Homo sapiens: one gene and its partners. The protein of the gene in region 3 interacts with the protein of the main gene of each other region in a biochemical or structural test. Each region holds a gene or a part of one and is shown on either strand. Other genes may lie near its edges.

The links.
Region 1: the proteins of VPS33A (region 3) and MON1B form a complex in vitro, tested with the Homo sapiens proteins (one study listed by BioGRID).
Region 2: the proteins of VPS33A (region 3) and MON1A form a complex in vitro, tested with the Homo sapiens proteins (one study listed by BioGRID).

What each region holds. Positions count from the first base shown.
Region 1 is NC_000016.10:77,186,391-77,194,205, forward strand, and holds the start of MON1B (vacuolar fusion protein MON1 homolog B), read left to right. Parts: upstream 1-4,799; 5' UTR 4,800-4,831; coding exon of another isoform or gene 4,832-4,868; intron 4,869-5,085; 5' UTR 5,086-5,095; coding exon 5,096-5,243; intron 5,244-7,060; coding exon 7,061-7,387; intron 7,388-7,815. Other genes in the region: uncharacterized protein LOC124903725, read right to left, coding at 3,832-4,176.
Region 2 is NC_000003.12:49,926,803-49,934,895, forward strand, and holds the start of MON1A (vacuolar fusion protein MON1 homolog A), read right to left. Parts: upstream 3,010-8,093; 5' UTR 2,807-3,009; intron 2,734-2,806; exon of another isoform or gene 2,567-2,733; intron 2,533-2,566; exon of another isoform or gene 2,480-2,532; intron 1-2,479. UniProt on the Homo sapiens protein: Plays an important role in membrane trafficking through the secretory apparatus. Not involved in endocytic trafficking to lysosomes.
Region 3 is NC_000012.12:122,256,435-122,263,537, reverse strand, and holds part of VPS33A (vacuolar protein sorting-associated protein 33A), read left to right. Parts: intron 1-2,090; coding exon 2,091-2,277; intron 2,278-7,103.

The DNA of each region.
Region 1 (7,815 bases), on a different chromosome or scaffold from region 3:
TATAATACCTGCATTATCTCATAGTTTAAAATGTTTTGACATTTTACTTTTAAATGATCTGCTTTTTTTTTGTATATTTACAGGAGTCCCTTTTTTTGTTGGTGTTTATTTATTTATTTATTTATTTATTTATTTATTTATTTTTGAGATGGAGTTTCGCTCTTTTTGCCCAGGCTGGAGTACAATGGCATGATCTTGGCTCACTGCAGCCTCCACCTCCCAAGTTCAACTGATTCTCCTGCCTCAGACTCCCAGGTAGCTGGGATTACAGGCACATGCCATCACACCCAGCTAATTTTATATTTTTAGTAGAGACAGGGTTTCACCATGTTGGCCAGGCTGGTCTCGAACTCCTGACCTCAAGTGATCCACCCACCTCAACTTCCCAAAGTGCTGGGATTAGAGGCATGAGCCACCACGCCTGGCCCATTTATATTTTTACAGACCACATAATTACATTGAGATCTTGTAGTGAGCCTATATTTAGGCCCTGATGTTATATACAGTTGGACAATCTCTGTTTTAATTCTACTATTTATTTGTATTTAATGCAATTTTTAACATAGTTGAATTAGTGTCTTGCATCTTGCTGTTTGTTCTCTATTTGTCCAATCTGTTCTTTATTGTTTTGTTCCTCTTTTTCATCTTTCTTTTGGATGGCATACACTTAGTATTCCACTTTATCTCAACTCTTGGCCTATTATTTCTTTGGCATTAAATTTCTTTGGCATTTCTGTATTTTTTTCCCCATGTCAACAAAATGCTTCTTTCATTCCTCACAATATATCTTCAAATAATAATTCTTCATGTAAAATGTGAGAGCCTTAAAGTAATGTGCTATCATGTATAACTTCAGTCATTTGTGTTATTGCTGCCACACATTTTATTTCTACAAATATTATAAACCCCACAATACATCGGTTTTGCATTTAGATAAGTCAATTATATTCTTAAATGAGAAAATATACTTTACTATTTATCCACAATAGTAAAAGTCTTTTAGATTTTGGAAGCAACACATACCACATTTCAGTGTGTGACTTTGACTCATTTACAGAATTACCTGTAGATTTCAAGTGAGAAGAACAAAAGAAAGTGAGTTCAGACTGCAGGTTAAGCTAATCCACCACTTGGGGCTTATGATCCAGCAGACCCATAGATTGTCAAACTGTCCATGGCAAATAAGGATGCTCTACAGAGCATCTGGCAAGCAACAATAGGACAAAAAAAAAACACTACACAGATGTGTAAGATTTTGAAATAAATCTATCCTCTCTTCTGTAGTTAATGATTCTTCTTTTGAACAGGTTTGGGACCAGGCCTTGGTAAAGAATGAGCACCTAACTATGGGATGTCAGGTGATTGCACAGCCTGAGATTTCGATCATGGGCTGGGTGTTGGATACTCACCTAGCTATAAGGTTGGGTGCTTTATTTATTTATTTTATTAATATTATTATTATTATTTTTGAGATGGAGTTTCACTCTTTTGCCCAGGCCGGAGTGCAGTGGTGCAATCTTGGCTCTCTGCAACCTCTGCCTTCTGGTTTCAAGCGATTTTCCTGCCTCAGACTCCCAAGTAGCTGGAATTACAGGCACCTGCCATCACGCCCTGCTAATTTTTGTATTTTTAGTTTCACCATGTTGGCCAGGCTGGTCTCGAACTCCTGATCTTGTGATCTGCCCGCCTCGGCCTCCCAAAGTGCTGGAATTACAGGCATGAGCCACTGTACCCAGCCTGACATTGGACGCTTTATTATCAAACAGAAATGGTACGTAAGAGATCAAGCTCAGGCTTAACATGAGGGTCTAACTGAGTTCCTGTCCTTAAGTCCTAGGCAGTATTTTGTGTTTTCCTTTACGTCCTTTCTTAGACTCATCTGTAGCTTGGGATTACCTGGGACTTACACAGTGTCCATAAAGTCAGGAAGTATAAACATATATAATGTCACAAAGACATCTTTGATCTGTTAAAAAAACAAACAGAAAAAAACTCTGTGTCTGTGTGTGTGTCTACAATTTGTAAACACTCTGCAGTTCAAGCCATGAGCCATAACTTAAAATCTACTGGAGAGGTTTGTTGAGATATTTTTGGTCTTTGCTTTTCTGATTAAAAAAAAAAAAAGGCAGACACACCAGAGATGGCTCTATGTTCCTTCACTTGTTCCCATCTCTCATCTTTGATTGTAGAAATTGTTTAGAGTGGCAAATCATCAAACACGGAATGCTAATAAAGCTCCATAAACTTACGTCTGCAGTTTTGAAATCCAAAAAGCTCCAGAAAAATAATTTTTAAAAGCTCACTTGGAGGTAAAACCTGAACTAAACTAACATAAGACGGTTTAGTGTTTCTCTTACTGGGAGTAATAAAAAGTTTCACTCAGAAAAAATGAGTTTAGTTATCAGGTGTTTCCCAGTCCCTTGCTGGGCTCTATATAATACATGGCACATGCACCTAATTTCATTTCTAAAATCAGGAAAATGTGTGAATTTAAAACACATCTGGCACTAAGGGTTTCAGATAAGAGACTGTGTGACAATTGTTCTTAGTTCTGCCATTTTCCCTGGAAAACAATCTTTAAAGTTCACAGAGCACATCAGCAAGAATTTTTAAAAGGAGCCTAATTGTGATATGGTTTTGTTGAAATACAAGGCAGGTGTAAAAGGAAAATAAATCTCAGGACTCCAAAATTACTAAGCCAAAGGTAAAAGTCAAGCTGGGAACTGCATCAGGCAAACCTGCCTCCCAGTTTATCCCTAAATAAGATATTTACAAAGATAAAGCTACATACTTCCCTCATAATTTGCCCTCTAGGGATTCCTTGTGGGCTGCAAGATCTTTACCCTAAAACGGTTCTGTTGAATTTTACCCTGACAACGTAAATTGATAGTTTATCTTCACAGGTGCGAGACAAAGGAGCGAACCCCAAGTCATCCCTCTGCTCACCTGAAACAAATGCATATCTGATTGCTTCCTCTGAGGTAAAAATGCAGATTGACAAAGCTAGATGAAGGCGTAACTATTCCTCTACTCCCCTGATAAGGTTTGGATCTATGTTCCCACCGAAATCTGATGTCGAATGGTAATCCCCATTATTGAAGGTGGGGTCTGGTGGGAGTTGATCGGATCTTGGGGGTGAATCCTTCATGAATGGTTTAGCATCATCCTCTTGGTGACAGTGACTGAGGGAGTTATTGCGAGATCTGGTTGTTTAAAGTGTGTAGCCCTGGGCTGGGCATGATGGCTCACTCCTGTAATCCCAGCAATTTGGGAAGCTGAGGCGGGTGAATCACCTGAGGTCGGGAGTTCAAGACCAGCCTGGCCAACATGGCGAAACCCCATGTCTACTAAAAATACAAAAATTAGCCGGACGTGGTGGCGGGCACCTGTAATCCCAGCTACTCCAGAGGCTGAGGCAGGAGAATTGCTTGAACCCGGGAGACGGAGGCTGCAATGAGTCAATAACATTTTGCCATTGCACTCCAGCCTGGGTAACACAGCGAGATTAATAAATAAGTTTGCTTATGAGATGTTATTTTATTGTACTTTTTTACATGTTTATTATATATTATATACTTCTAAATGTATTAGGTAAATATATTTTGTATGCACATAAATTTATCCATTGTTTCTGTTATATAAATTTAATATTTATTACTTATCGATTACCTATTGTATATAAAGCACATGATGCTACACTGGTATTTGGAATTCATTACCCTAACTATACTGTAATTAAAATAATTATCCTAACTAGTACCAAAGGCTTCCCCTTAGCAATCACTCGAAGTGTGCCAGCACCTCCACTCACTTCACGTCAAGCGATTCCCATCATTGTTTCACTGATGGAGAAACCAAGGCCCAGGGCACTTGGGGCAAGGCGTTCAGGGGGCTTTCGGTCCGGAAGCAGCGTCGGGGCGGGAATTCGAACCCTGGGTTCCCACACTGGCCCGTGGCAGGGCCCCCAAGCCTTTTCCCAAACTGATCACAGAAAGTGACGACCCGTTCGCCCGGCGGACCGGGGGCGTCGGGCAGGTCCTGGTCCAAGTGAGTGCCCGCCCCTGCCCTGGGCTGGCAGAGTTCTTCCCCCAGCTGCAGGTAGACGTGGGAACCCGGCAGGGTACGGAGCTGCTGGCGCGGCACGCTGATTAGAAGCGGCGACTGCCCGTCAAGCATTCGCGCCTCTCCCCTCCCTTGACTTTCTTGGCAGGGTTAAGGGATAAGAGAAAGTGGAGTTGCCTCAGTTCTGGGAGAGCCCGTTTGTGGGTCCGGCACAGGTATCCATCGGGACTGACGCTGCAAAAGTCCTCTTGTGAAACAAGGAATAGGCTCGAGTCTTCGATTGGGTCGAGGGAGACGTCAATCAATGGATGGGCGTGTGCAAACGCAACACAACGCACAGTATTGGTTAGGATTTGGCGGGGGGAGTAGACAGCGGGGAAATGAGGCGGCTCATCTCGATTGGCCCAGAAAGAAGACGGTCGCGCCCTATGTACTCCGGGATTGGCTAGAGCGAGCCGCGTCCCCCCTCACGCCAACCACTGGTAAGCGAAGTGGGCCTCGCTCTCCCGGGTTAGCAGCCGTAGCCAGATCCGTTGAAAGGAGTGCAGAGAGGTCTCATTGCGCTCCCGAACAGACCTGACGTAGATCCGAAGTGGCCCGCGCCATCTCAACTATGAGGGGACACCCGTAGGCGGCGGGAGAGGGACGCCGCGAGGAGCCAATAAAGCTCCGCAACCGGAAGTGTCTTCTGGGAGGGGTCGTACCCGGAAGTGTGGCACCTCCCGGGCCGCACCCGGAAGTGTGATGCCACCGCCGCTACGGGGAAGTAATGGTATCCGGCCAATTGAGATTCGGAGTTAAAACAGGTGTTTGTATATCTCTATTTCCTGAGGCCCAGTAGAGTCTCCTCTTTTCGGAAAGTGTTGGAGGGGGGACGTATTTGGGCATGATTTTGGATGTCTCGTCCTATTGAAATCCGTGGGGAAATGAGCAGTAGGAGTGTGTCCAAGGGGGCCTGACTCTATAAAGGCTTTTCAGAAGTTTCTTTCACCGCCCGTCACCCTCGATTCCCCTCCCACTCAGGGATGTGCAGATGGAGGTCGGAGGAGACACTGCTGCCCCGGCCCCCGGGGGCGCGGAGGACTTGGAGGACACGCAGTTCCCCAGTGAGGAAGCTAGAGAAGGTGGAGGGGTTCACGCGGTCCCGCCGGATCCCGAAGACGAGGGCCTGGAGGAAACAGGTATGACTCCACTTAGTGGGGTCTTAAAAGGAATCCTTAGGGGTTGTCATTGTTGGACGGGGGAAGGGTCAGTGGGTGACCAGTAGGGAGTCTTGGGACTTAAGAGAAGTGGCTTAAACCATCGCCGGGTCAGGAGGAGGTCACTGTGGACACATGGTGTAGTTTACATCATTGAGGAAGTCATTGGCTGTCAACGGATGTTCACTGGGGGTTTGGTGTGAGTTTAGGTCATTGAGGAATCAAAAAGGGGGCTGTTAGGACCAAAGAGGGTCACTGAGGATTTAGAGTGTTTAGATCAAAGAATGCGCTGAAGAAAGTCAATAGACTCAACAGAGGAGGACTGTTGAGAAGTTAGTGTTTTTGAGGAGTAGGGTGTTATTTATTAAATAATAGAAGTGGGAAGGGGAATCAGTGGAGTTCGATGGGCACTCAGAGTATTTACATCATTGAAGTCACTTGTAGACTGTTGGGGAAGTCTTTAAGGGACCAAATGTTAGTGGATGTGTAAAGTTGTTCATTTGAGATTTAATGGAAGTCACTGAGAAGTCTGTGCCATTGATCACTTTGGAATTAGTGGATGTAAATGGAGTCATTGGGAAGGATCAGTGGACCTCACTGAGAATAAATGTGGATGGGGAGGTTGAGGACTTGGGAATTAATAGCAGGTAAGAGCAGTTATTAGGAGGGAGTAAAGATATTTGGGGACATGGGAGTGTCAGTGAATGTCAGTGACAGAATATGCAATTATTGGGATTTTATGGGAAAATTATTGAGACATAGTTGCACATGGATAATAATGGTTGTCATTGGGGGATGAATGGAAATCAATGGGAATAAATGGATGTGTCAGTAGGGGCTGTTGAAGTTGTGGGTTTTAGTGAATGTTAATGATGGTCATGGGTAGGGGCAATGGAAGTCATTAAAGTCTTGTGTGTTAGTGGATATTATGATGGTTACTGTAGGGAGGGGAGTGGATACCAATGAGATTGAAGGTGGTCAGGGGAGTGACTGAAGGTCTCTGAAGTGCTGGGTGTTAGTGGAGGTTAATGATGGTCATTGTTGGGGGTAGGGGGGAGTAGACATGGAGTAGAATAACTTGTGGATCAGGGCAGTCATGGAGGGTCATTGAAAAACCAGGTGTTAATGATTGTTAATGTGGGGTCATTGGGGTGTTTGTGAACCACAGTGGGAGTGAATAGTGGATTAGGGGAGTCCTAAATATCTGGGTGTTAGTGGATATTAACGACAGTCATTGGGAGAAATAGTGGACATTACCAAGAATATAAATGGGCAACCAGGAGAGTTAGTAGGGGTCATCAGGTATCAGTGGGCATCACTGATAGGGTAGTAGCGGGGGTTGGGGCATTCAAACAGTTAAGATATTAATAGATGTTAATGGTGGCCATTGGGTGAGCAGATATCAGGAGAAAAAATAGCGGTCAGAGGAGTTAATGGGGGATCATTGAAGATGAATAATCGTCATCCAGAGTCAATGGGGTGCTTTGAAGACTTTGGAATAACAGTGATTGAAAGGGAAGTAATTGGTCTGTAGGAACATAGCAAGTCCAGTGGAATAACAATGAGAATATGTTGGTTTATTAGGGTTTTAGGAAGTTCATTGGAACCTAAATGTTAGTGGAGATCATTGCGGGGTCCTAGGGCAGTCATCGGGTCATTGAGGGGCATAGGAGACACTTGGAGTTCTGCGTCAGCATGCAGGGGTCATGGAGGGGCTAGTAGATATTTGGTGGGTCCTTGGGGATGTGGGATTAGTTAGGAGTTCACATGCAGATGACCCACCAGGGGCTCCCTTTCAGGATCCAAGGACAAGGACCAGCCACCCAGCCCATCACCACCGCCCCAGTCAGAGGCCCTGTCAAGCACCTCTCGGCTCTGGAGTCCTGCAGCCCCTGAGAATAGTCCCACATGTAGCCCTGAGAGTAGCTCTGGAGGCCAGGGCGGGGACCCCAGTGATGAGGAGTGGCGCAGCCAGCGGAAGCATGTGTTTGTGCTGAGTGAGGCTGGCAAGCCCATCTACTCGCGGTATGGTAGTGTGGAGGCGCTGTCGGCTACCATGGGTGTAATGACCGCCCTGGTGTCCTTTGTGCAGAGTGCGGGAGATGCCATCCGTGCCATCTACGCTGGTGAGCAAACAGGTGGGAGGCAGAATGGGGGACAGTGACTGGGAATATGGCTGGCACGGGTAGGTCTGTCTGCCTCAGGCACTATCCAGCCAGCCAGGGTTGGGTCCATGTGTGTGGATGGTCAGCCAGAGCTCTGTCAGTGGCGGGAGGTGGGGGGGTTCATCTCTGTCTGGCCTGCTGGTTTCTTAGTGATTGACTTGCTGGGATCTCAGTGACTAGCTGGATACTTCTGTGTCACCTGAGAGGATAACTGTGGGGGCTGTGTGGTTGAGCTGTGTCTTTCTGGCTCTGTGTCAGCCCTTGTACCATCTCTACCCGCCTGCCCGTGGTCTTTGCTGTGTATCTAACCTACTTGTTCCTTTGTCCATCCCATCATGTCTCTGCAAATGTCCAGATTCCTCCAGCTTGTCCTTACCCCAGTCCAGGTG
Region 2 (8,093 bases), on a different chromosome or scaffold from region 3:
GAGTCTCATTCTGTCGCCCAGGCTGGAGTGCAGTGGCATGATCTTGGCTCACTGCAACCTCTGCCTCCTGGGTTCAAGCAATTCTTGTGCCTCAGCCTCCCGAGTAGCTGGGATTACAGGTGTGTACCACCATGCCCATCCAATTTTTGTATTTTTAGTAGAGATGGGGTTTCATCATGTTGGCCAGGCTGGTCCCAAACTCCTGACCTCAGGTGATCCACCGGCCTCGGCCTCCCAAAGTGCTGGGATTACAGGCATGAGCCACCGCGCCCAGCTGAACTTGTGTTTTTATCCCTCAGGCAATTAAAAAAGAAAAATGGAAGGGAAAACTGAAAGATCTCTGAAGAATGCCCAGCTCTGTCACACCTGTGATGTGGCCTCTGGAAACCCCTGCCTGTGGGGAAGACTTATCACTGGTACTACTCAGGTGTTCAGGAACAATGGCTCCGAAGTTAGAGGGACCTGGATTAACCTGGCCTGGTCTCAGTTTTCTCATTTATAAAATGGGATAGTAGTATTGATTCCTTGGGTTGTGGGAAGATTAAATGAAATAATCCATGTAATTTGATTACATACTCAGTTGCTCCCATTAGCACATCCTGATTATTCTTACTTAGCATTCAGTCCATGTGTGACTGCACTTATAATACCACATGAATCCAGTGGTCTGTGCCATGTAAATCGGGCCTCTGAGATTTTGCTCAGCCTACAGTGGCATATGGGCAAATACGCTTCTGACCTTGCAAAGCCAGGTGGGCCCTAGCCTGAAGCGACTCACCTTCAGGCTAGGGCTATCATATAGACAGTTGGGAGTCAGGTCAAAGAGCTGTCTTATAGACAGCTGGGAGTTCCTCCAGGCTAACTGGTTGTTCACTGGCTCTGGAGTTGCAGGAATAGACAACGGGCTCTCTGCTGCTCTTGGAAGTATCTCCTAAATTAAACTCCTTAATTAGCCAGGTATGGTGGCAGGCGCCTATAATCCCAGCTACTCAGGAGGCTGAGGCAGGAGAATCACTTGAACCCAGGGGGCAGAGGTTGCAGTGAGCTGATATCGCGCCATTGCACTCCAGCCTGGGCAAAAGATTGAAACTCTGTCTCAAAAAAAAAAACAACAAAAAAAAACAAAAAACTCCTTGGTCTGCCACATGCCACTGCTCTGTGACGTTGCACTTTTGGTTCAAAGACCCAAACAAGGTCTACAATAGCTTACTTATTCTGTCCTCAGGGCCCACTCTCCACTGATCCCTTGTGGGCTTTAGCTGACTAAGCCCAGTGTGGCTGAGTGGTACCCAGCACGGTACCTGCATGGGGAAGGGTTGGCGGGGGCCAGATCAGCTGGCCAGAGCTAGTGGATGCTTCCTTCACAATAGTTCTCCTGCCACCTGAGATCATACAGTATCTCAGCATCTCCTAGGTCAGTCTGGGGTCCAGCCAGAGGCCTGATGAAGCAAACAGCTCTCTGAATACTTACTCTGGAAACTCAGACAGGGAGGCTGAGTGAATCACAGCAAAATCCACCCCAACCCCCATTGGAGCCACAACTGTGCAACTGAAGCTCCTGGGAGGCTAGAATTGAAGAAGTTAGGCAAAGGAGGTCTCTTAGAACCAGCCCCAGATGCCCCTTCTCAGGGAACCCTTCTCAGACAACCCCTCTAGAAGCCCCAGGCCTTGCTTTTCCTAGAAGTGCCCTGCTATGCCTGTGAGCAATGTCACCAAACAAGTTGGCTCAATCAGCCCTTGTAGTGTGCCTCTCTCACTCAGGCAGCCTTGGAGCAGAGAAGGCCTTCAGAAGCCCCTCCCTACTGACTCCCTACCACTCCTGCTCCCTCTTCTTGCTTGGATAGCACTTCATTTCACCTTAACCCTTTGGAGCGGCCTGTCTGGAAAGGAGGTGCCAGGATACAGGATGTGTGGCAGACAAGGCCCAGGTGAGGCTGTGCTATGGCTGCTTCAGCAGGATGCCTACTCCATGCTGAGATCACAGTCTGGTCCTTGTCACTTCTGGCGGTTACTTCCCTCCCTGACAAAGGGTGCTCACTCTCCCTCTGCAAACTTGTGCCCAGAAAGGGTGGCTCACCCAGTACAAGGGACAACCCAGTTGCACCAGGCAAACTGGTGCAAAGTCCGGCCAGGCGCAGTGGCTCATGCCTGTAATCCCAGCACTTTGGGAAGCTGAGGCAGGCAGATCACCTGAGGTCAGGAGTTCAAGACGAGCCTGGCCAACATGGTGAAACCCCGTCTCTACTAAAAAAATACAAAAATACAAAAAATTAGCTGGGCGTGGTGGCGCATGCCTGTAATCCCAGCTACTCGGGAGGCTGAGGCAGGAGAATCGCTTGAACCTGGGAGGCGGAGGTTGCAGAGAGCTGAGATCACACCACTGCACTCCAGACTGGGCAACAAGAGTGAAACTCCGTCTAAAAACAACAAAGCAAAGACCCAAGCCCCTTCCAGGTGCTGCCCCGCTCATCCCAGTTACCTCTGTTGCTTTTTGAGAAGACTCTACCGGCCGAATATGTGTACGTTTGTTGGCGGGGCGGGGGTGGGGGAGTGGGGAGAGTCCTACCTGGCCACTGCCCCCTACCGGATCTCGCCCTCCCAGCCAAAGGATGGGTTCCAGATCTCGCCTTTTGTATTCCCCAGCTGGGGACTAGCCGGCTGAGGGACCGCAGGGAGACACAGTCTTCCCATTGCAAACGATAGCGTTGATGGCTGGAGGCCCCCGTCTTCAAGCCCCTCCCTCCAAAGATGACAGCTCTCCAGTCTCTAGGTGCCTCCAGGCCACGTGGGCTGGCAGTCAACTCACCTGTTTCTCAGAGGAGTCCAGGACGCACAGAAGGTGCCGGTCACTGCCCTCTGCCGGACCCATGGAGGGGTAAGGGTGTCCGGCCGGGGCCGGCCTGAGGGCACAGCTTCGCGGGGCCCCGGCCCCCTGCGTACACAGACATGGCCACAGCGCAGGCACCGCTCCCTCCCACCGCCCTCACCCGGCCGCCGGTGCAGGAAGATAGCTTTCGCCGGCCTCTCGCGGCCAAGGCCCAGCTCCAGCCGCTCAGCCCGACTCGGCCCGCCCCCGGGGTGCATTGTGGGAAATGTAGTCCTTAGCGTTTGGCCGCCTGCGGCGCCGAGGGACTGGTTCTGGGCTCCTAGTCCCAGCAGAGCCGTGGGCAGGTCCTGACCCGGGTCCGCGATTGCCTCATCCGGCGCCGCCTTCTAGGGGCCTGGGCGCCTCCTCCGAGTCTAGAGTCCCACACAGAACAGCCCTGGACTCTGGGCCTCTCCGTCCGAGCCAGCTAGCAGTTCATTTCAAGTGAGAGAAAGGGACGTTAGGATTGTTTCTCCCACTGATTGTGGAAGGACAGTGCAAGTTTGGGGGACTGGATAAATGTCATTAGTGGGCCCAGCCACACAGGCTGTAAAGGATGTGGGCATGCGCAAAAGTCGCACTAATTGTTTCTAAAAACATATTTGTAGCCACGTTTTAATGTATCAGTATAATGCTCTAGAACGGTAGTTCTCAACTCTGACGGCACATAGAATAAGCCGGGAAGCTTTAAAAAAAAAAAAAAAGAACTAGGACGGGCGAGGCGGCTCACGCCTGTAATCCCAACACTTGGGAGACCGAGGTGGGCGGATCACTTGAGGTCAGGAGTTCCAGACCAGCCTGGCCAACATGGTGAAACCCCATCTCTACTAAAAATACAAAAACTAGCCAGGCTTGATGGCGTGTGCCTGTAGTCCCAGATACTCGGGAGGCTGAAGTGGGATTCCAGGAGGTCGAGGTTGCTGTGAGCCATGATCATGCCCTGCACTCCAGCCTGAGCACCAGAGCGAGACCCTGTCTCAAAAACAACAACAAAAAAACTAATGCCTGGACACCAGCCCTAGAGATTTTGATTTAATTGAATTTAGAGTAGGGTGGAGTGTTGGGGAGCCAGGCATCACTATTGTTTTAAAAGCTCCCCAGGTGATTTACCATTGCAAAGAATCATTGTTTGTAATTTCCTAGACGCAAAGCAATAAAAACAACAGGAAAACAGTCAACAACAGGCTCTCCCAAAAGACCCTTATTTTTAGAGATGGTTTTAAAAAGTAAAATTAGTGTTTGGCACCACTGCTCATGTTCTTTTCTGAAGCAATTAATTCACTTTACAGCCTTATGGTTAATTCTCCCAAAAGTTAATAGGATGAAAAAAAAAGTCAGATCACTCCTCTGACTTTCCCTGCTGCTCCACAAGCACCTGGGGGCAGTGTCCTTTTCCTCTCTAAGCCCTACACTGGAGTTAGGGTAGAGCTCCGCCCCTGGGCTTTTCTTCCAGTCTCAGATGGCTGCCACTTGTAGCCTGCTTCCACAACACTGGCCTGTGACTGACATGGTGACAAAGCTGTGGCCTTTCACTGAAGATGGCTTTGCATAAGGCTATCAAGTTCTTGCACATAGTCTAAGGGAAGCTTTCTCACCCCCATGTCCCCCACTTTTAGGTAAGGACATAAGAAAATGCCCTATTCCTTAACTGAGAGTCTCTCCAGGTCTCCACAGATCACTCAGTATTTTATCTCCTCATTAGCTCAGAAGTCCAAGTTCCCTCCCTTAGGGCAAGAATCATTTATACAGTTGTTTTCTCTAATTATTACACTATAAGAGTTTGAGCCATGAGCTGGGCTTGGTGGCACAGCCTTGTAATCCCAATTACTCCACAGGCTGAAGCAGGAAGAATTACTTGAGCCCAGGAGATCAAGTCTGAAGTGAGCCATGATCATGGACAACAAGAAGGAGAAAGTTAAGAAAGAAGGAAGGAAGGGAGGGAGGGAGGAAGGAAGGAAGGAAGGAGAGTTTAAGTCAAGATATAACATTCTCTGCTTGGTACAGAAATGTCCTGGCTATGTTCCTTTCCTTTTTCTTTTTCTTTTTTTATTTTTTTTTTAGAGATGGTGGTTTCACTATGCTATGTTGACAAGGCTGGTATCGAACTCTTGGCCTCAAGCAATTTTCCCATCTTGGCCTCCCAAAGTACTGTGATTACAGGCATAAGCCACCATGCCTGGCTAATATCCTGCCTATATTTCATTAACTTGAATTTACACCCTATAGAATTCATCTCCATAGAAGACAAATTAATTTAATTTACTTATTTTTTTTCAAATGAAGTCTCTATCATCCAGGCTAGAGTGCAGTGGTGCCATCTCAGCTCACTGCAACCTCTGCCTTCTGGGTTCAAGTAGTTCTCTGCCTCAGCCTCCCGAGTGGCTGGGATTACAGGTACCTACCACCACGCCCAGCTAATTTTTGTATTTTTAGTAGAGACAGGGTTTCACCATCTTGGCCAGGCTGGTCTTGAACTCCTGACCTCGTGATCCACCCGCCTCAGCCTCCCAAAGTGCTGGGATTACAGGCATGAGCCACCACACCCCGCCCAGAAGACAAATTTAAAGTTTTCTTTTTTTTTTTTTTTTTGAGACGGAGTCTCGCTCTGTTGCCCAGGCTGGAGTGCAGTGACGTGATCTCAGCTCACTGCAACCTCCGCCTCCCGCGTTCAAGCAATTTTCCTGCCTCAGCCTCCAGAGTAGCTGGGATTACAGGTGCGTACCACCACGCCCGGCAAATTTTTGTGATTTTTGTATTTTTAGTAGAGACATGTTTCACCATGTTGGTCAGACTGGTCTCGAACTCCTGACCTCGTGATTCATCCATCTCGGCCTCCCAAAGTGCTGGGATTACAGGTATGAGCCACTGCGCCCGGCCAGTTTTTTGTTTTGTTTTGTTTTTTTGAGATGAAGTCTTGCTCAGTCACCCAGTCTGGAGTGCAGTGGCACTATCTCGGCTCACTGCAACCTTAGCCTCCCACGTTCAAGCGATTCTCCTGCCTCAGCCTCCCAAGTAGCTGGGACTACAGGCATGCACCACCATGCCCAGCTAATTTTTTTATTTTTAGTAGAGATGGGGTTCCACCATGTTGGCCAGGATGGTCTCAATCTCTTGACCTTGTGATCCGCCCGCCTCGGCCTCCCAAAGTGCTGGGATTACAGGCGTGAGCCACTGCGTCCAGCCTAATTTTTGTATTTTTAGTAGAGACGGGGTTTCACCAATGTTGGCCAGGCTGATCTCGAACTCCTGACCTTGTGATCCGCATCCACCCACCTCGGCCTCCCAAAGTGCTGGGATTACAGGTGTGAGCCACTGCGCCTGACCAAATTTAAAGTTTTCTACCTAACTAGTTCTTGACAGTCTCCATGTTTAGCTCAGGATTTCTTCCAGAGTCTTACTATTCCTGTTAAGCACATCAGCTCCACCAGATAGTACTACTGTCATCTGGAAGTATTACATCTACTTAGCTAAGCAAGTGGCCATATATCTCATATATTTCTCGCTAAGACTTGTGCCTAAGACATTCTCGCAGAGCAAATCATGGTGGGTACTTACTAAAACATCTTAGGTTATTACTTAAAACTTTGTTTTAATCCACTTTTTTTTTTTTTTTTGAAACGGTGTTTCACTCTTGTTGCCCAGGCTGAAGTGCAATGGTGCGATCTCGGCTCACCACAACCTCCTTCTCCCGGGTTCAGGCGATTTTCCTGCCTTAGCCTCCCAAGTAGCTGAGATTACAGGCATGTGCCACCACACCCGGCTAATTTTGTATTTTTAGTAGAGATGGGGTTTCTCCATGTTGGTCAGGCTGGTCTCGAACTCCCGACCTCAGGCAATCCACCCACCTCGGCCTCCCAAAGTGCTGGGATTACAGGCATGAGCCCCCATGCCCGGCCTTGTTTGTTTTTTGAGTCAGGGTCTTAATCTGTCACCCAGGCTGTAGTGCAGTGGCTCACTGCAGCCTTGACCTCCTGGGCCTAAGTGATCCTCCCACTTCAGCCTCCCGAGTGGCTGGGACCACAAGTGTGTGCCACCACATTGGGCAAGTTTTAAATTTTTTGTAGAAATGGCGTCTCCTTATGTTGCCCAGGCTGGTCTGGAACTCCTGGGCTCAAGCAATCCTCCTACCTTGGCCTCCCAAAGTGTTGGGATTACAGGTGTGAGCCACTGTGCCTGGACTGTTTTTATTTTTATATTGAGACAGAGTCTCAATATGTTGCCCAGACTGGCCAGGAACTACTGGGCCCAAGCCATCCTCCCACATCAGCCTCCTGAGTAATTAAGACTACACACCCAGCAAGGATACACTTGAGTTATAACCTTGCAGCACCTCAGGTTCTGACATCTTCACTAAAGCTAGAAAAGAGAAGAAATATGGGGAAGAACAAGACGTCTAATTGTTACATTTCTTCCGCCTTCACTTTTCAGCTGTGGCAAGTTACTTAACCTTTCTGGGCTCTGGTTTCCTTAACTATAAAAGGGGAGGCAGGGAGTGGTGGTTCATGCCTATAATCCCAGAACTTTGGGAAGCCGAGGTGGGTGGATCACCTGAGGTCAGGAGTTCGGGACCAGCCTGGCCAAGATGCTGAAACCCCGTCTCTACTAAAACTACCAAAAAATTAGCTGAGCATGGTGGTGTGAGCCTGTAATCTCAGCTACTCAGGAGGCTGAGGCAGGAGAATCGTTTGAACCCTGGAGGTGGAGGCGGAGGCGGAGGCAGAGGTTGCGGTGAGCCGAGATCGCGCCACTGCACTTCAGCCTGGGTGAAAGAGCAAGACTGTCTTGGAAAAAAAAAAAAAAACTATAAAAGGGGATAATATTGGCCAGGCTAGTGGCTCATGCCTGTAATCCAGCACTTTGGGAGGCTGAGGCAGGTGGTCATGAGGTCAAGAGATCAAGACCATTCTGGCCAACATAGTGAAACCCTGTCTCTACTAAAAATACAAAAATTAGCTGGATGTGGTGGCATGTGCCTATTGTCCCAGCTACTCGGGAGGCTAAGATGGAAGAATCGCTTGAGCCGGGGAGGCGGAGGTCACAGTGAGCCGAGATTGTGCCACTGCACTCCAGCCTGGTGACAGAGCGAGACTCCATCTCAAAAAACAGGGGATAATGTCATATAGTTATTACGAGGATTAAATGAAATCATAGATGAAGTGCCAGCACCATGCCAGGCACGTGGTTTGATAAAGTGTAGCAATTATTATTACCCAAGGAGATTGGGCCT
Region 3 (7,103 bases):
TGGTTCTTATAATGCTTTTAATTTATGAGCTCCTTCTCATGGAAGACCCTCACTCTTGCCAGTGCAAGGTGGTCTTTTGGAAAACTGAGATAGGCATGGAAGAATATAAAAGAGAAGATGGGGGCTGGGGGGAGGTGGAGATAGTTAATGGGTACAACAAAAAATAGAATAAGACCTACTATTTGATAGCACAACAGGGTGACTATAGTTAATAATAATTACGTATTTTTAAACTTAAAAAGTGAGACTGGGCATGGTGGCTCACACTTGTAATCCCAGCATTTTGGGAGGCCAAGGCGGGTGGATCACTTGAGGTCAGGGGTTCGAGACCAGCCTGGCCAACATAGTGAAACCCCGTCTCTACTAAAAATACAAAAATTAGCCAGGTTTGGTGGCCTGTGCCTGTAGTCCCAGCTACTCGGGAGACTGAGGCATGATAGTCTGTTGAACCCGGGAGGCAGAGGTTGCAGTGAGCTGAGATCGCGCCACTGCACTCCAGCCTGGGCAACAGAGGGAGACTCCGTCTCAAAAAAAAAAAAAAAAAAAGAGTGTAATTGGATTGTTTTGTAACTCAAAGAGTAAGTGCTTGAGAGGATGTGTCCCCCCATTCTCCGTGATGTGCTTATTTCACATTGCATGCCCACATCAAAACATCTCATGGACCCCATAAATACATGCGCCTGCTATGTACCCCCCAAAAATTAAAAATAGAGAGGATGAGAAACTTAGGAAGTTGTTGTCAGCAGTTGGAGAGGAGGATCATCCTATCTACCCATTCTTTCAAGATAGCCAAAAGCTACCCATTCTTTAAAGATAGCCAAAAGCTTAAACCTGTGTCAGTAAAAAGGGCCCTAGTTTAAAAAAATAAACCTCCAGCAGTTATTTTTAAATATACTGCATGTACTTGAATTTCATAAGCAAAAAAAAAAAAAAAGCTGATTAAATTTTAATATAGCATCCAGTCTATAGAGGAAGTGCTCCCAGCCGAGTCTGCACTCTGTGGTACAATTGATTGTTGCAGCCCCTAAAATCTTAAAAGCATATGGGCTATTTTTGGAAGTTCTCTGTCAAGGAGAGTAGGAGTGGGAGTCAAAAGTGATCTTTCATTTTAATTTAAGACTCTTTGTGGCTGCATTGCTTTGGTTGAAGAACCATTTGTTTTTATTGAGACACAGATATCCTATTTCAATCAACCTGAGAGCTTCAATGCCCCATAAATGGTTTAAGAGAATGCTAAAATGTACTCGCCAGGACTCAGTGATGCTTTCCTGTCAGGGGGAAGAAAGAGAGAGAGAGTGGGTACAGCTGTAACACGTTGGGTCTGAGTCAGTTTTTGGTTATTTTTTTGAGACACAGTCTCACTCTGTTGCCCAGGCTGGAGTGCAGTGGTGGAATCTCTGCTCACTGCAACCTCTGCCTCCAGGGTTCAAGCAATTCCCCTGCTTTAGCCTCCCAAGTAGCTGAGATTACAGGCACACACCACCATGCCCAGCTGATTTTTGTATATTTTTGTTTTAGTTTTTATTTATTTATTTTGAGATGGAGTCTCGCTGTGTTGCCCAGGCTGGAATGCAGTGGCGTGGTCTCGGCTCACTGCAACCTCTGCCTCCCGGTTTCAAGCGATTCTCCTGCCTCAGCCTCCCAAGTAGCTGGGATTACAGGTGCCTGCCACCATGCCCGGCTAATTTTTTGTATTTTTAGTAGAGTCGTGGTTTCTTCGTGTTGGCCAGGTTGGTCTCCACCTCCTGTTCTCGTGATCCGCTCGCCTCGGCCTCCCAAAGTGCTGGGATTACAGGCATGAGCCACTGCGCCCAGCCATTTTTGTATATTTTATAGAGACGGGGTTTTGCCACCTTGACCAGACTGGTCTCGAACTCCTGACCTCAACTGATCCGCCCGCCTTGGCCTCCCAAAGTGCTGAGATTACAGGTGTGAGCCACTGCACCCGGCCTGAGAGTCAGTATTTATATGATTTATCTAGCCAGCATTTATTTAGTGCCTGCTATGTGCCAGGCAGTGGGGATAAAAAAAGCAAAATGGTCCATGACTCTTAGGAGCTCATAAGCTAACAAATGTTGCTTCCTTTGCAGTGAAGATAGACGAGGCCCAACGAGAGATTTTCATATTCTGTTTGTGCCACGCCGTAGCCTGTTGTGCGAACAGCGGTTGAAGGATCTGGGTGTCTTGGGATCCTTTATTCACAGGGAGGAGTACAGCTTAGATCTCATTCCATTCGATGGGGATCTCTTATCCATGGAATCAGAGGGTGCATTCAAAGTAAGTTTGGCATTTCCTTAACTTCAGGCATTAATTTTTGCCCAGTTTATGAGTGTGAGCATACCACAGTACTGATTACTGTGAAGCTGAGTCCCATTTTATATGTTTATTGATGTTTAAGATTTTCTGTTCAACAAATTGTTCATTTTCTTTGCCCGTTTTTTCTTTTTGAGTAATTCTTTGTATATTCTGGATGTTGATCATTATGGATTATAAAAGCTGCAAGTATCTTCCCAGTCTGTGACTTGTCTTTTAACTTTGTTTTTTTGTTTTGTTTTGTTTTTTTGAGACGGAGTCTCGCTCTGTCGCCCGGGCTGGAGCGCAGTGGCGCGATCTCAGCTCACTGCAGCCTCCGCCTCTTGGGTTCAAGGGATTCTTCTGCCTCAGCCTCCTGAGTAGCTGGGATTACAAGTGTGCGCCACTATGCTTAGCTGATTTTTGTATTTTTAGTAGAGACAAGGTTTCACCATGTTGCTTGGCCAGGATCCGCTTCATGATCCGCCCGCCTCCGCCTCCCAAACTGCTGGGATTACAGGCGTGAGCCACCGCGCCTGGCTTAACTTTGTGTATAATGTCTTTTATCATGTAGACACTTCCCATTAAAAGTAGTTAAATTTTAAAATTTTAAAATATTAGCTTTATTTATTATAACTCACAATACTGGCTGAGGTAAGTGGCTCATGCCTGTAATCCTAGCACTTTAGGAGGCTGAGGCGGGTGGATCACCTGAGATCAGGAGTTTGAGACCAGCCTGGGAAACATGGGGAAACCCCGTCTCTACTAGAAATACAAAATTAACCGGGTGTGGTGGTGGGTCCCTGTGGTCCCAGCTATTCAGGAGGCTGAGGCAGGAGAATCACTTGAACCCGGGAGGTGGAGGTTGCAGTAAGCCGAGATTGCGCCACTGCACTCCAGCTTGGGCGACAGAGGGAGACTCTATCTCAAAAAAACAAAAAACAAAAAACAAAAAAAAAAACTCACAATGCCATGAAATTCTCTCCTTTAAGGTGCAAAATTCAGTGGTTTTTAGTGTATTTACAAAGTTGTGCAACTATCTCCACTCTCTAAGTATGGCACATTTTAACTATTCCGAAAAGAATCCCCATGCCCAGTAGCAGTCTGTCGCTATCTTTCCTTCCCTCAGCCTCTGGCAGCCACTAATCTAGTTCAGTCTGTATGAATTCGCTTATTCTGGAGTTTTCCTTTTCTTCTTTTTTTGAGATAGAGTCTCACTCTTTTGCCCAGGTTGGAGTGCAGTGACGTGATAATACCTCACTGCAGCCTTGACCTCCTAGGCTTGAACGAATTTTCAGCCTCAGCCTTTTGAGTAGCTGGAACTACAGGCATGTGCCGCCACACCTGGCTAATTTTTTTTTAATTTCTTTTTTTTTCTATTTTTATTTTTTGGAGAGACAGCGTCTTATTATGTTGTCCAGGCTGGTTTTGAACTTATTCTGGAGATTTTTTAGAAATGAAATTCTATAATACATAAATGGTCCTTTGTGTCTGGCATCTTCACTTAGTGTAATGTTTTGAGGGTTCACCCAGGTTGAAGCCTGCGCGAGGCCTTCATTCCTTCTTATTGCTGAATAGTATTCCATTGTAATGATATTATCATTCATCAGCTGATGGACACCTGATGGGTTGTTTCCACTTTTTGGCTGTCACGATACTGTGAATATTGTGAAAAGTTTTTATGTGGATGTATGGTTTCATTTCTCTTAGATATACCTAGGAGTAGAGACTGGGCGTGGTGGCTCACGCCTGTGATCCTAGCACTTTGGGAGGCTGAGGTGGATGGATCACTTGAGGTTGGGAGTTCAAGACCAGCCTGACCAACATGGAGAAATCCCGTCTCTACTAAAAATACAAAATTAGCCAGGCATGATGGCGCATGCCTGTAATCCCAGCTACTTGGGAGGCTGAGGCGGGAGAATTGCTTGAACCTGGGAGGTGGAGGTTACAGTGAGCTGAGATCACGCCATTGCACTCCAGCCTGGGCAACAAGAGTGAAACTCTGTCTCAAAAATACATACATACATACATACATACATACATACATACATACATACACACATACATACACACACACACACCCCTAGGAGTAGAATTGCTGAGTTGTGGTAACTCTGCATTTAACATTTGGAGGAGCTGCCAAACTCTTTTGCACTGAAGCTGTACCGTTTGTACTCCCAGCAGCAGTGTGGGAGGGTTCCAGTTGTATATCCACATGGACAGACTTATTATTCTGTCTTTTTTTTTTTTTTTTTTTTTGAGATGGATTGTCACTTTGTCACCCAGCCTGGAGTACAGTGGTGCGATCTCGATCTTGGCACACTGCAACCTCGGCCTCCCAGGCTCAAGCAATTCTCCCGCCTCAGCTTCCTGAGTAGATGGGATTACAAGCATGCACCACCACGCCTGGCTAGTTTTTGTATTTTTAGTGGAGATGGGGTTTCGCCATGTTGGTCAGGCTGGTCTTGAACTCCTGACCTCAGGTGATCCACCTATCTCAGCCTCCCAAAGTGCTGCGATTACAGGCGTGAGCCACCATGCCTGGCCTGTTATTCTTTGAATTTAGTCATCCTACTGAGTATGAAGTGGTGTCTCATTGTAGTTTTTATTTGCATTTCCATAATGACTAAGGATGTTGATCATCTTTTCTTGTGCCTGTTGGCCTTTGTCTTCAGCTAAACAAATGTCTGTTCAGATCACTTGCCCATTTTTAAAATTGGGTTCTGTCATTTTTATTACAGAATTGTAAGAATTCTTAATAGATTCTAAATGCAAGTCTCTCCTCAGATACATGATTTCCAAGTATTTTCTTTTGTTCTGTGAGTTCTTTTCACTTTCTTGGTGAGATTGGTGTCGTTCGATGCACTAAAGTTTTAAATTTTGGTGAAGTCTCTTTTATCCAGTTTTTCTCTTGTTACTTGTGCTTTCAGTATCATCTCTGAGAAGCCATTGCCTACCCCAGGATCACAAAGATTCACTCTGATGTTTCCTTCTAAGAGTTCTATAATTTTTTATTTTTTAAAGAGACAGGTCTCACTATGTTGCCCAGGCTGGTCTCACACTCCTGAGCTCAGGCAATCCTCCCGCCTCAGCCTCCCAAAGTGCTGGGATTACAGGTGTGACCCACCGCGCCCAGCTTATAATTTTTCTACATCTTATGTTTAGGTCTTCAACCCATTTTAAGTTAATTCTGTATGTAATGCAAGGTGGGTGTCCAAATTTCATTTTTTACACATGGATATCTATTTGTTCCAGCACTATTTGTTGAAAAGACTGTATTTTCCTCATTGAATTGTTTTGGTACCCTTGTCAAAAATCAATTGTCCACAAATGTAAGGGTCTGTTTTTGGTCTTTTAGTTCTGTTTCACTGATCTATATGTCTGTATGTCCGTCCTTATGCCAGTACTACACTGTCTTGATTACAGTAGCTTTGCCATAAGCTTTGAAATCAGAAGTGTGAGTCCTTCACCCTAAAGCAGGTAAATATATCACTTTTGTTCTTTTAGATTGTGCTTTTTGAGTCTTCATAAATCTTCCACTCTGCAGACAAAGAAGAAAATCTTTTTTTTTTTGAGATGGAGTCTCACACTGTCACCCAGGCTGGAGTGCACTGGTGTAATCTCAGCTCACTGCAACCTTCACCTCCCAGGTTCAAGCAGTTCTCCTGCCTCAGCCTCCCAAGTAACTAGGATTACAGGCACACACCACCACGCCCAGCTAATTTTTTTGTGTATTAGTAGAGACGGGGTTTCACCGTGTTGTCCAGCCTCCTGAGCTTCCACCTGCGCCCGGCCCTTTTTTTTTTTTTTTTTTTTTTTGAGGCAGAGTCTCACTCTGTTGCCCAGGCTGGAGTGCAGTGGCACAGTCTCGACTCACTGCAACCTCCGCCTTCTGGGTTCAAGCAGTTCTCTTGCCTCAGCCTCTCAAGTAGCTGGGATTACAGGCATCCACCACCACGCCCGCCTAATTTTTGTATTTTTAGTAGAGACGGGATTTTACCATGTTGCCCAGACTGATCTCGATGTCCTGACCTCAGATGATCCACCTGCCTCGGCCTCTGAAAGTGCTGGAATTACAGGCGTGAGCCACTGTGCCTGGCCTGAAGCTACTTTTTACCCCAGTTCTCAGACTGCCCCTTATCCCAGAAGCAATCACTATTTCTCTTTTAATTTGGGGTGGGGGGATATTATATGCAGCTACAGCTCATAGTATATAATCCCTCCCCACTTTTGTACAAGTAGTAGCATATGATATATATACTTTGGTATGTTGCGTTATTCTCTTAATAATATCTCTGAGTCATTTTCTACCACGTATGGCAATACTTGTTTATTCTCATTTGAAGCTGCATAGAGTTCCATTGTTTGGATGTACATAATGTATTAAATCAGCTTTCTGTTGGAGAGCATTTTTTTCCTCTCTACGCTGTTGGAGGCAGTGCTGCCGAGAATGAGCCTGTTTGTAGGCCCCTCTGCACATGCGCCCTTTGTAGGCTGCGTTCGCCTTTGTCATTTCTTTTGACATTGCTTCTGGTAATTTTGGCTGTGTGTATGTTTTTAACATAATCACACTTACCCATGTTTCTTTGATTTATGAGTTTATGATGCTGCTGCTGCTGGTGCCGCTGCTGCTGCTCTGGAGACTAGAACTTTTTTTTTTTTAATTGTTTTTGAGACAGATTCTCACTCAGTCACCCAGGCTGGGATGCAGTGGCACAATCTCGTCTCACCGCAACTTCCACCTCCCCAGTTCAAGCAATTCTCCCGTCTTAGCTATCCGAGTAGCTGGGATTACAGGAACGCGCCACCAC